Regions from separate parts of the Homo sapiens genome. Here region 1 is linked to region 2. The links come from fine-mapping of genetic effects on gene expression. A gene starts in region 2. The other region holds a variant in brackets. All regions are shown on one strand. Distances are from middle to middle.

Region 1 (5,369 bases), 39 kb before region 2:
TAAAGCAATGTGTACAGCATGGTGTCACCTGGGGCTCAGAGCCTCCCCTCTCCCTCCATCAGCCTGTCTGCCCCCAGCGGCAATGCTCCTGCCCCTCCTCCTCCTCCTGGGCTTCACTCCCACATGTGACTCCCTCCAACTCTCCCCTCCCTGCTTCAAGGGTGTCTCCCTCTCTCCTCACTCAGCTGTCCCCCAGGGCAGTGCCTTTGGGGTGGGTGGACGTGAGAGGCCTCTGGCCTCCACACACTGCCCACTGCTACCCTTGCTCAAGGCTGCTCAACCAGGGAGGAGACGGCCGTCCGGCAGGATGGTCACTGGGGCCAGAGGGAGTGGTCAGTCAGGACACATTCTGGAACAACACTCACTTTATTTGCTGCTGAGGCAAGTGTTCAGATCTCTCACTGTGATTGTCTATTTCTCCTCTTAGTTCTTTCTGTTCCAGTCACATTTTGGAGTTGTGTTCTTTGGTGCTTTTATGTTTAGCATTGTTGTGTCATCCCATTAACCTCACCACTTGGTCACTGAGCTGTCCCTCCATCTCTAATGAGTCCTCCTGCCTGAGGCCGTGCTGTCAGATGTGAACAGCTGTAGCAGATGTGTGGGTGGTGCCCTGGCTTCTGGCCTCTCGCATTCACTCTGCATCCTTGGACTCGATATGTGAAGCCTGTGAATGAACATAGCTGGGTTTTGTCTATCCAATCTAACACACTTAATTGGAGTTTGCATTCCACTTACATTTAATATGCTTGCTGACACATTTGGTTTAAAGCTACCATTTGCCTCTGTTTCCTATGTGTCCCATCTGGTTATTTTTCCTTTCTTACCTTCTTTGGGATTAGTGAAAGTAGGTATTAGTCCAGTTTCATCAACATGTTTATTGCTTTTAGCGGTTACCCTAGAGATCACGTCTGATGTCAGAATCTACTTTATTATTTTTTTTGAGATGAAGTCTTGCTCTGTCGCCCAGGCTAGAATGCAGTGGTGCCATCTCGGCTCACTGCAACCTCCGCCTCCTGGGTTCAAGCAATTCTCGTGCCTCAACCTCCCGAGTAGCTGGGATTACAGGCATGCGTCACCAGGCCCAGTTAATTTTTTGTTTTTTCAGTAAAGACGGGGTTTCATCATGTTGGCCAGGCTGGTCTCAAATTCCTGACCTCAGGTGATCCGCCTGCCTTGGCCTCCCAAAGTGCTGGGATTACAGGTGTGAGCCACTGCACCTGGCCCAGAATCTACTTGAAATCCATACTTTCACCCCTTGCAGGATGGTGCAATCCTTTATTTCCCTCCCACCTTTTGTCCTTACTGTCCATGTATCTTAAGTCTACCTGTATTTTGAACTCTAAGAGATAGTTTTAGGCAGTCTATTATTTATTTAGCTTTCCCGTTTCTGCTCCTTTCAGGAGTATTCCTTGTTCCTTCCCACATCAAGTGTCCACCTGGAGAATTCCCTCCAGGATATATTTTAGGGCTGGTTGGCTGGTGACAAGTTTCTGCAATTTTTTGTTTTGTCCAAAAACTTAAGTTCATCCTCACTTTTGAGGAATCTTCTCACTGGGTATATAAATCTAGATTGGTAATTATTTCCTTTCAGCATTTAAAAAAAGCCACTCCACCATTCCAACTATTTGTTTTAGAGAGTCAGCTGCCAGCTTTATTGCTCCTCTGAAGGTAAAAGTGTCTCTCCTCCCTCCCTCTGCTTAAGGTTGTCTCTTTCTCTTTGGGTTTCAGCACTTTGCCATGATGTGCCTAGGTGCAGGTTGTTATTTTCAATTTATCCTCATTGGGGTTCAAAGATATTGACACCTATGGCTGATGTCCCAACAGTTCTGGAAAGTCCTCAGCTGTGATCTCATCCAAATGGCGCTCCACCCCTTCTCTCTCCTCTTCTGGGACTCCCGTCAGCTGTGTGCTAGTCTTTTCTCTTGCGCTGTGTCTCTCAGGCACTTTTCATCTCTCTGTACTTCAAGATGAATGTTTTCTACTGGCTTGTCTTCCAATTCAGTAATCCTTTCATCTATAAGCCTAATTTGGTACTAACTACATCTAGGGAATTCTTCATTCATCGTTGTGTTTTTCAGCATTAGCACGTTTACAGATTCTCTCTGGTGGCATTCTCCACCTTCTCATCCATATTATTGAATGTATAAATCATAAAGTCCGTGTCTGAAAACTCCAGTATTTGGATCACCTGTGAGACTATTTCTATTGTCTTATGATTCTCTTTTCAGTCACTTAGTCCTTTTTTTCAGTGTGTCTCATAATTTTTTTATGAGAGTCAAACTGTTTATCTGTAAAGTTATAGGAGCTCTGATGTTTTCATTGAAAGAAAATTTAGTTTTCCTCTAGCAGAAAGGTGAGGCAGATCGCCCTGATGCAATCAAGGCTGAGATGGCTCAAGCCATGTCCAGACTTGGTGAGGGTTGGTCCCTCTCCAGTTTGCCCTTCAGGGGACTCACCTGGAAACCTCAGAGTTTTCTCAATGGCAGGCACTGAAGTCCCAAGTTTTGTCTCCCTTGCCCAAAGATGTCTCAGCTTTCCAGCCTTTTGCTGCTATATTTGGGTTTCCAAGCCTCTTGCCTCAAGCACAAGCAGCAACCAGGAATAGGCACCTGCTGCAGGGGAAGCTGCACACTGGGAATTCGGCCACTTCTCTGAGGCTCCTGGCATCCTGGCCAACATGACAGCTTGTGTGTTGCTGCCGGTCTCCCAGCCCAGTGACACCACGCCAGCTCTGGTTGCCACCTTCTGTCAGGCCTTAGGGCAGGACACCAGCAAATGGCCCAACAGGAAAAAATGTTGTGAACACAGGACTCACCTTTATGCAAGTCTCATCTTACTAGGATTTTGTTTCTTCAAATCCTGGCTGTCTTACTCTCTGATGTCTTCAAAAAGTTTTTTTTTTTTTTTTTTTTTTTT[TG/G]AGACAGAGTCTTGCTCTGTCGCCCAGGCTGGAGTGCAGTGGCACGATCTCGGCTTACTGCAACCTCTGCCTCCCAGGTTCACGCCATTCTCCTGCCTCAGCCTCCAGAGTAGCTGGGACTACAGACGCCCACCACCACACCCAGCTAATTTTTTGTATTTTTAGTAGAGACGGGGTTTCACTGTTTTAGCCAGGATGCAAAAAGCTCTTTTTAAAAATATATTTTATATGGCCTTGATAGTTCTTGGGAAAGGTTTGGTCTGATAGCAGTTGCTGCCTCATAGTCAGAAGTGGAAGAGAAGGGAATTTTAGCTTTAAATGAAGTTCAATGTTTTATTATTGCAGGAGTGGTCTTCAAAAAGTTCATGGAAAATGCATATTATGACAAAACTATGCATGCATTTCAAAATTCTTTTGCTCCAAAATAAACTCATACTAACTTGTTAGAACATGCCTGAATAGATCTAGTTTGAGGCAGTAAGAATCAGTTTGAAAAGGGCTCCTAGCAGAACATGAATTCTGCAAAAACTGAAGCAAAAACAAGCATCAAATCTATAGTGAACCTTGGGTGGAAGAATGGTGAAAATCATGATGCTTTACAAAAAGTGTATGAGGACAGTGCCCTAAAGAAGTCAGCAGTATACACATAGATACCTCGTTTTAAGAAGGATCAAGACAACATTGGAGATGAAGACCACAGTGGCAGACCATCCACATCAATTTGCAAGGAAAATATTGATCTTGTTCATGCTCTGATTAAAGAGGACTGACGATTAACAGAACAATAGCCAAGACCACAGACATCTCAACTGGTTCAAAATTGAAGTTGAGCAAGCTTTCCACTCGATGGGTGCCAAAACCGTTGTGCCCAGATCAGCTGCAGACAAGAGCAGAGCTTTCAATGGAAATTTTAAACAAGTGGCATCAAGACCCTGAAGCATTTCCTTGAATTATAACAGGAGATGGAACAGGACTTTACCAGTACCATCCTGAAGACAAACCACAATCAAAGCAATGGCTACCAAGAGGTAGAAGTGGCCTAGTCAAGGCAAATGTGGACAAGTCAAAGTAAGGTCATGGCAACAGTTTCTTGGGATGCTCAATGCATTTTGCTTGTTGACTTTCTGGAGGGCCAAAGAACATTTTTTTTTTTTTTTTGAGATGGAGTCTCGCTCTGTCGCCCAGGCTGGAGTGCAGTGGCACAATCTCAGCTAGCTGCAAGCTCTGCCTCCCAGGTTCACGCCATTCTCCTGCCTCAGCCTTCCGAGTAGCTGGAGTAGCTGGGACTAGAGGTGCCTGCCACCACGCCCAGCTAATTTTTTGTATTTTTAGTGGAGACGGGACGGGGTTTCACCATGTTAGCCAGGATGGTCTCGATTTCCTGACCTCGTGATCTGCCCACCTCAGCCTCCCAAAGTGCTGGGATTACAGGCGTGAGCCACCGCATCTGGCCACAATAACATCTTATTATGAGAGTGTTTTGAGAAAGTTAGCCGAAGCTTTAGCAAAAACACACCCAGGAAAGCCTCATCAGTGTCTTTCTCCACGATGACAATGCTCCTGGCTCATTCTTCTCATCAAATAAGGGCAATTCTTCAAGAGTTTTGTTGGGAAATCATTAGGCATCCACCTTACAGTCCCGATTTTGCTCCTTCTGACTTTGTTTCCTCATTTTAAAAAATCTTTAAAAGCACTCATTTTTTCTTCCGTTAATAATGTTAAAAAGGCTGCACTGACATGGTTAAATTCCCAGAGCCTGCAATTCTTTAGAGGTGGACTAAATGGCTGGTGTCACAGCTTACAAAAGTATCTTGATCTTGATGGAGCTTACATTGAGAAATAAAAATGTTGTTTTGTTGTTGTCATTGTTGGTGGTTTTAAGAGAGAGGATCTTGCTCTGTTGTCCAGGCTAGAGTGCAGTGGTGTGATCACAGCTCACTGCAACCTCAAACTCCTGGGCTCAAGTAATCCTCCTCCCTCTGCCTCCCAAGTAGCTGGGACTACAGGCATGCACTACCAAACCTGGCTAATTTCTTGAACTCCTGGCCTCAAGCAGTCCTCCCACCTCAGCCTCCCAAAGTACTGGGATTACAAACATAAGCCACTGTGCCCAGCCAAGAAATAAAGTTTTTATTTTTTTATCATCTTTTACTTCAGTATTTCCACAAATTTTTTAAAGTCCCTTCGTATAATGACTGGTAATTTCATTCACTGAAGAGACAGTTCTGAGGCTCATACAAAGAGCTTTTTATTATCTGAGACAGACCTGAGAAATTAAGGAACCTGCCTAAAACATCATTTCCAGGCAGGGAAACAAACAGCTCGCAGCTGGGGTTCTGAACGGAGAGGCAAGGTGGGAATGGCTAAGAATCAACATATTTTCTAGTTGCACCCACAGTCCCCTCATTCAAGTAGTGAGAGTCGTGTGACTGTCAGCACTGGGCCTCTTGTC
Region 2 (5,369 bases):
TCCCAGAATTTGAACTACAAAAGCACATATCCAGTGATGACCAAGGAAGGGATCTGAGGTACTGCAGAATGTAGAAAAACCTAGGTGCTAAAAAGTGGGGAGCAGAAGGGCCTGGAAGGCTGGGATGCAGAGAGGCCCGAATCCTTGAAAGGGCTGAAGCCAGAGAGCTGCTGGAATCCACAGACACTAAAAGAGAAAGCCAAAACCAAACCGCTAAGGGGTGTCACGGGCTAAAGGCACAGTGACTTTCTTACACAGCCAAATGTAAATAAGAGCAATTCCTATAGGTACATTCTCAGGTCCTGAGATTTAAACAGTGAAGGAAACAACGTTGGTAAGGAAGGGCCAGCTTGGCCTCTACCCCAGGGCTGGGCAAAGCCACGCCCAGCTGTTTCACCTGCTCCCTCCTCTCAAAAGACAACCACCACACCAAAGAGAATGAGACCAGAAGCTAAAGCCAGGCAAAGAAAAAAACGCAAAACAAAGTGAAGGACGGCACTGACCACGGTCACTTCCTGCTCCTCATGCCGCCAGGAGTCCACTCCCCAGGGCTCCTCACCAAGGATCTGAGACACACACACACACACACCTTTCGCTAAAGAAGCTGCTTCTCAGCTCCTCTGCACACACACAGAAGTCAGTCCGCTCCCCTAGTAATTTTTTTAGTCTTTCTGCAAGGTGTTATGGACATACTTTGCACAGCTGAGTTACTCACTGTGTGTGTGGAGGGGGTTGGGGAGGAGGTAACCTTAAAGAGCAGAGGTTTTACATCCAACAACATCAACCACCTTATTCAGGAATTACCTGGACAAGAGTGTGTGTTGGGGGAGACCCTGTAACCACCTGTCAAGTGGACTAAAAGTCTTAGGTTTCTTTCCATATAGATTAACTGTGTCCTCACCTCAAAGACCGGGCCTCTGAAGCTTTTTCAAGATTCACAGAATCTCTCTTAACTTGTGCTAGATCTTTTCTTGAAAAAAAGCCAATCATGACAAGCAGATATAATCCGTTTAAGGACTACGGGAAGTGTGCAGCCTTGTACGGACGTCCCATTGGAAACCCTCGGAGTATGGAATCAAACTCCTGTAAACTTTCCTCTTGCAAAGTAACTTTGTTTAGTAATTGCAATTAATTCATAATCAAAATGTGGCTTATTCATAGCACTTAAAAAAAAATCCCAACCAAATCCTTCCTAGCCTCAATTTTGTCACTATGAATGACATACACAGAAAAAATAAAAAACATTTCTGTGTAAAAAGTCGCAGGATGCCCTTGCTTTACCAAACTGGCCTCACTATGAGGTCTGAATGGATTTCTAAAAACGTAATCTGATCAGAGTTAACTTCAAAATAAATAACTTCCCTTTCGACCAACACGAGAACACCAACAGAAGCTTCTGACGGCTCAGCTTGGCCGGGACGTGTTTCCACAGAGGTGCCCGGGTCTACCAGGGCCACCCGGAATAGAAAGGCGCAGAAGGGAGCCCGAGGGGCTGCGATTCTCTTAGCAACGAAGGCGGTGTGGGCCACACAACGGGACAAAAGAAGAAACAAAACTGACTGCGAGCTCATTTGGGTGTAGGAAAACCACTGCAGTCGAAAAACATTTGAAATTATGGTTCGCAAGGCAAGTTACATTTTTATTCATTAAATGTGAACGGTCATCCCCAGAACCACGTACAATAACCTGCCTCGGGGCGCGTCGCAAGGACCCGTCTGGGCTGAGACATGAAGCAGGGCCCAGGTGGCCCTTCCTGGAGGTGGGACGGGAATGACACGTCCAGAGAAGTCCCAGGGACGGGGCTCGCGGGGTTAACTCGACGTGGCCGGGACAGCGCGCTCCCGGCGGACCCGGGCGGCGCCCCGAGCCCGAGCCCCGTCCCGTCCGCCCGGAAGCAACGGCGCGGGCACGTGGGCCAGGCCGGGCGCCGACCCCCGGCACTCGGCCGCTCAGTCGGCGCCGCCCCCGCGCCAGCTGTCAGGGCCGGGGTCCGCGCGGGGGCGGGTCCGGGGCGGCGCCGGGCGGGGACCCCGAGGCCACGGAACCGCGCCCCCGCCCGCCTGGCCCCGGCCCTGGCCCCGGCGCGGCGCAGACAATGGCGCGGCCCGGCCCGGCCCCGGCGCGGTCCGCGGGGGACGGGGCTCGCGGCAGGCGGCGGGGCGGCGGCGCCCGCGCACTCACCTCGGCCCGGCCTCTGGGGCGGCTCCCGGCCGGCTGCGGACGACGGCGGCGCGGGCGGACGCTCCATTCATTACCGCGGCTTTGTCTGCCCCCGCGCCCCTCCCGCGGCCCCGCCGCCCGCCGCCCGCGACGCCGCCGGACGCTGCGCCCCTCCCAGGGCCCCGCGCGGCGCGGGGCGGGGCTGGCCGGGGGCGGGGCCGATCGGGGGCGGGGCCTACTCTCGCAGGCGCAGTGTCCGCGTACCCGCCCCGCCTCGTCCCTGGCCGGGCGGGAGGACGGAGCGCCGGAGGCCCGGCCGCTGGGGCGGGGTCGGGCGGAAGACGCAGGCGCAATGCGCGCTTCGGCTCCGCCCCCGGGTCCAGGAGGGCAAACTACGCAGGCGCAGTGGGCGCTCCGGCGCTGGCGGGCGACGGGAAGGGCTTAGGCGCTCTGGCTGGGCGGGGCGCGGGCGCCTTGGTTTCGTCCCGTGGCTTGGCAGTTGGCAGCGGCTCGGCGCGCACCCAACGGCCCACCGCGGGTTTCCGGGACGGCTAGCAGCGCGGTTCCCGGTCCCGCCCCGAACCCCCTTACCTGGCGCAGAGGCCGCTCAGTGCGGTGCGGTCAGGCCTCGTGGGCTGGGACCTAAGCCGTTGACCCTAAGGCGATCGGGGCTCCCCGCGCGGCCCCCCCGGGGGACGGGATTAACGCCTAAGCCCCAAGCCGGGTCGGCGGGAGGAGGGCGGCCCTCTGGGCGAGCGCGGGGCCGGGGCTGGCGGTGCGGAGCGCACGGGACTCGCCCGCTTCTCAGGGTCTGAAGGAAATGTGCACTTTTAATGTGTTATTTCCTAACACAAATGTTTGAGCAGACCAAATAAACTCTGCATGCTGAATGTGGCCCCGAGGTCCCCCGTTGGTGACACGGCTTTCGGCATTTTCTCGGCCTGAGTGTGAGAGTGAGAGGAGCCCGCGTGGCGGTCACCGGCTGGAGCGGGAGCGTGGAGTTATCACGGCCGCCTCTGCCCGGAGCCCGCCCCTGCCCCGCGGCTGTGCCCCTTCACCCGCACGCCGACTGTTCCAAAGTCCACGTCCAGCCTGCAGCCGGGTTTTCTATGGTGCCTGAGCTAAGAATGCTTTTCTCGTTTTTAAGAGGTTGGGGGAGAATTAAAACAGTATTTTAGCATATATGAAAAGTATATGACATTCAAATATCGGCCGGGCACGGTGGCTCACGCCTGTAATCCCTGCACTTTGGGAGGCCGAGGCGGGTGGATCACCTGAGATCAGGAGTTCGAGACCAGCCTGGCCAACATGGAGAAACCCCGTCTCTACTGAAAAAAAATAAAAAATTAGCCAGACGTGGTGGTGGGCTCCTGTAATCCCAGATACTCGGGAGACTGAGGCAGAAGAATCGCTTGAACCCGGGAGGCAGAGGTTGCAGTGAGCCGAGATCGCGCCACTGCACTCCAGTCTGGGTGACAGAGCAAGACTCCGTCTCCAAAAAAAAATTAAATTAAAATGTCGGTTTCCTAAGGAGTTCAACTGGAACACCACCATGCTTGTTCATGTAGTTAAAAGGTAAACTGCTTTACCTTCCACCATAGCTATGGAGTTGAGACCAGGCACTGACACCCAAAAAGGGCTCCCTGTTTCTTTCTTTTTCTTTTTTTTTTCTTTCTGAGACAGAGTCTCGCTCTGTCCCCAGGCTGGAGTGCGGTAGCGTGATCTCGGCTCACTGCAACCTCCGCCTCCCGGGTTCAAGCGATTCTCCTGCCTCAGCCTCCAGAGTAGCTGAGACTACAGGCGCTCGCCACCACGCCCAGCTAATTTATGTATTTTTAGTAGAGATGGGGTTTCACCATGTTGACCAGGATGGTCTCGATCTCCTGATCTTGTGATCCGCCCGCCTTGGCCTCCCAAAGTGCTGGGATTACAGGCATGAGCCACCGTGCCCGGCCTGGGGATCCCTGTTTCATTCAGAGTGGAGGCCAGTGTTCTCAGGCCTGCTCTGCCCCTGCCATCCCCTCATCAGATCTGCAGCAGCCCCCAGCCTCCTTGATGCTTGCTTTGGGGTCTTCGCACTGACTTCTTGTCTGCCTGGACTGCTCTTCCCCTCTGCCAGTGTCAAGCTCCCAGACGGCTGCCCATATGTCAGCATAGTGGGAGGCTCTCCGGGGCCATGCTCTAGGAAGTAACACTGCGCTCTCCTCATCCCCTCTCCGGGCTCTGACACATCTGACACACTGTATATGCCTGTGTCATGACTGCCCCCCAACAGCCTCCTGCTAGAATCAGTGGGAGGGGGGACTTCTTTGTTGTATGTGCTGAGGGAGCATGCCCAGTGCCGAGAGCAAGGCCCCCTACGCTTTGTGGAGTAGGTTAATGGGGCCCCACAATTGCCTGGCACTCATGTGCAGAAATAGAAGATTCCTGGGGCCAAAGAGCAACAGCTCTTCCCAAAGGGGCCTGCCGGTGAGTGAGTGAGTGCAGGTTGACAGGTCCCTCCTAGTGCCTTCCAAATTGTGCAGGGCAGCCAGGTGCGGCCTATTCTCTGGCCCCTCACAGGAAGATACTGTTTTGTATGTCGGGTGGCCCTTGGACTAAGTGCCCAAATGGGGCACCCTGGAGCATGGAAGGGCACACTAGACATCATGGGGCCAGGACCCAGCATCAACTGGGACTGTTTCGGCAAGCCAGTACCCCATGCCTCCACCAGCTGCAGTCCATTCATTTAATCTTTGATGGGCACTTTCTGTGTGCCCAAGATACAATATCTTATTTTTTCTTTTTCTTTTTTTTTTTTCAGTCTGCAAGTGCTTGGTACATACACAGATGGTATTTATTTGCTGTTTGTCTTAAATTGCATTCTTATGCATCATAGAGACTGCGATAAGGAGAAGAAAAAATATTTTCTACAGGACCATCCAAACATGTAAGTGGCTTTTCATGGGACAGTTTCCCATCACGGGAAAGACATAAGTCGATTCTTAGTCATCCAGAGTGTCAGTATCTTATTTTTTCATTCATCTGAACCAAAGTGTGACATCCCAGGGCCAGGTGTTTTATCTGAGTTCCATGCACAGACTGTGAGCCCCACCTGTACAGGGCAGTGCGAGTCAGGGATGCTCCGCACTGAGGCAGAAGAGCAGCTGGTGCCCTGGTCCTCTGTCCACTGAGGCTGCAGGTGGACCCACAGCATCTTCCGAAGGCAG

Alleles and levels. Alleles are on the strand shown, and positions count from the first base shown. SD is a standard deviation of normalised expression in the study named.
For the expression in neutrophils of the gene that starts at base 2,327 in region 2, TG is the low allele of the variant in region 1 and G is the other (large effect, 1.2 SD a copy in Naranbhai 2015).

Evidence for each region. PIP is the estimated chance that this variant, and not a neighbour inherited with it, causes the effect. A credible set is the group of variants that fine-mapping cannot tell apart.
Region 1: its variant is the best candidate, but not a certain one, in a credible set for the expression of ZBED4 in neutrophils (Naranbhai 2015, PIP 0.67).

The regions. Positions count from the first base shown.
Region 1 is chr22:49,889,736-49,895,104 of GRCh38, reverse strand. ZBED4 (zinc finger BED-type containing 4) reads right to left here. Exons shown (of 2, transcript NM_014838.3): 2 at 5,025-5,369. It also overlaps a transcript of ALG12 not described here. Among named protein-coding and RNA genes, the nearest start is that of ALG12, 26 kb to the left of the region's middle. The variant TG/G (reference allele first, on the strand shown) is at 2,917.
Region 2 is chr22:49,850,802-49,856,170 of GRCh38, reverse strand. It overlaps ZBED4 (zinc finger BED-type containing 4), which reads right to left and starts at 2,327. Exons shown (of 2, transcript NM_014838.3): 1 at 2,182-2,327. It overlaps LOC105377205 (a long non-coding RNA gene), which reads left to right and starts at 2,659. Exons shown (of 5, transcript NR_188597.1): 1 at 2,659-3,735; 2 at 4,964-5,089. It overlaps LOC124905147 (a long non-coding RNA gene), which reads left to right. Exons shown (of 2, transcript XR_007068156.1): 2 at 885-1,669. RefSeq lists silencers at 1,680-1,969, 2,140-2,869, 2,890-2,979.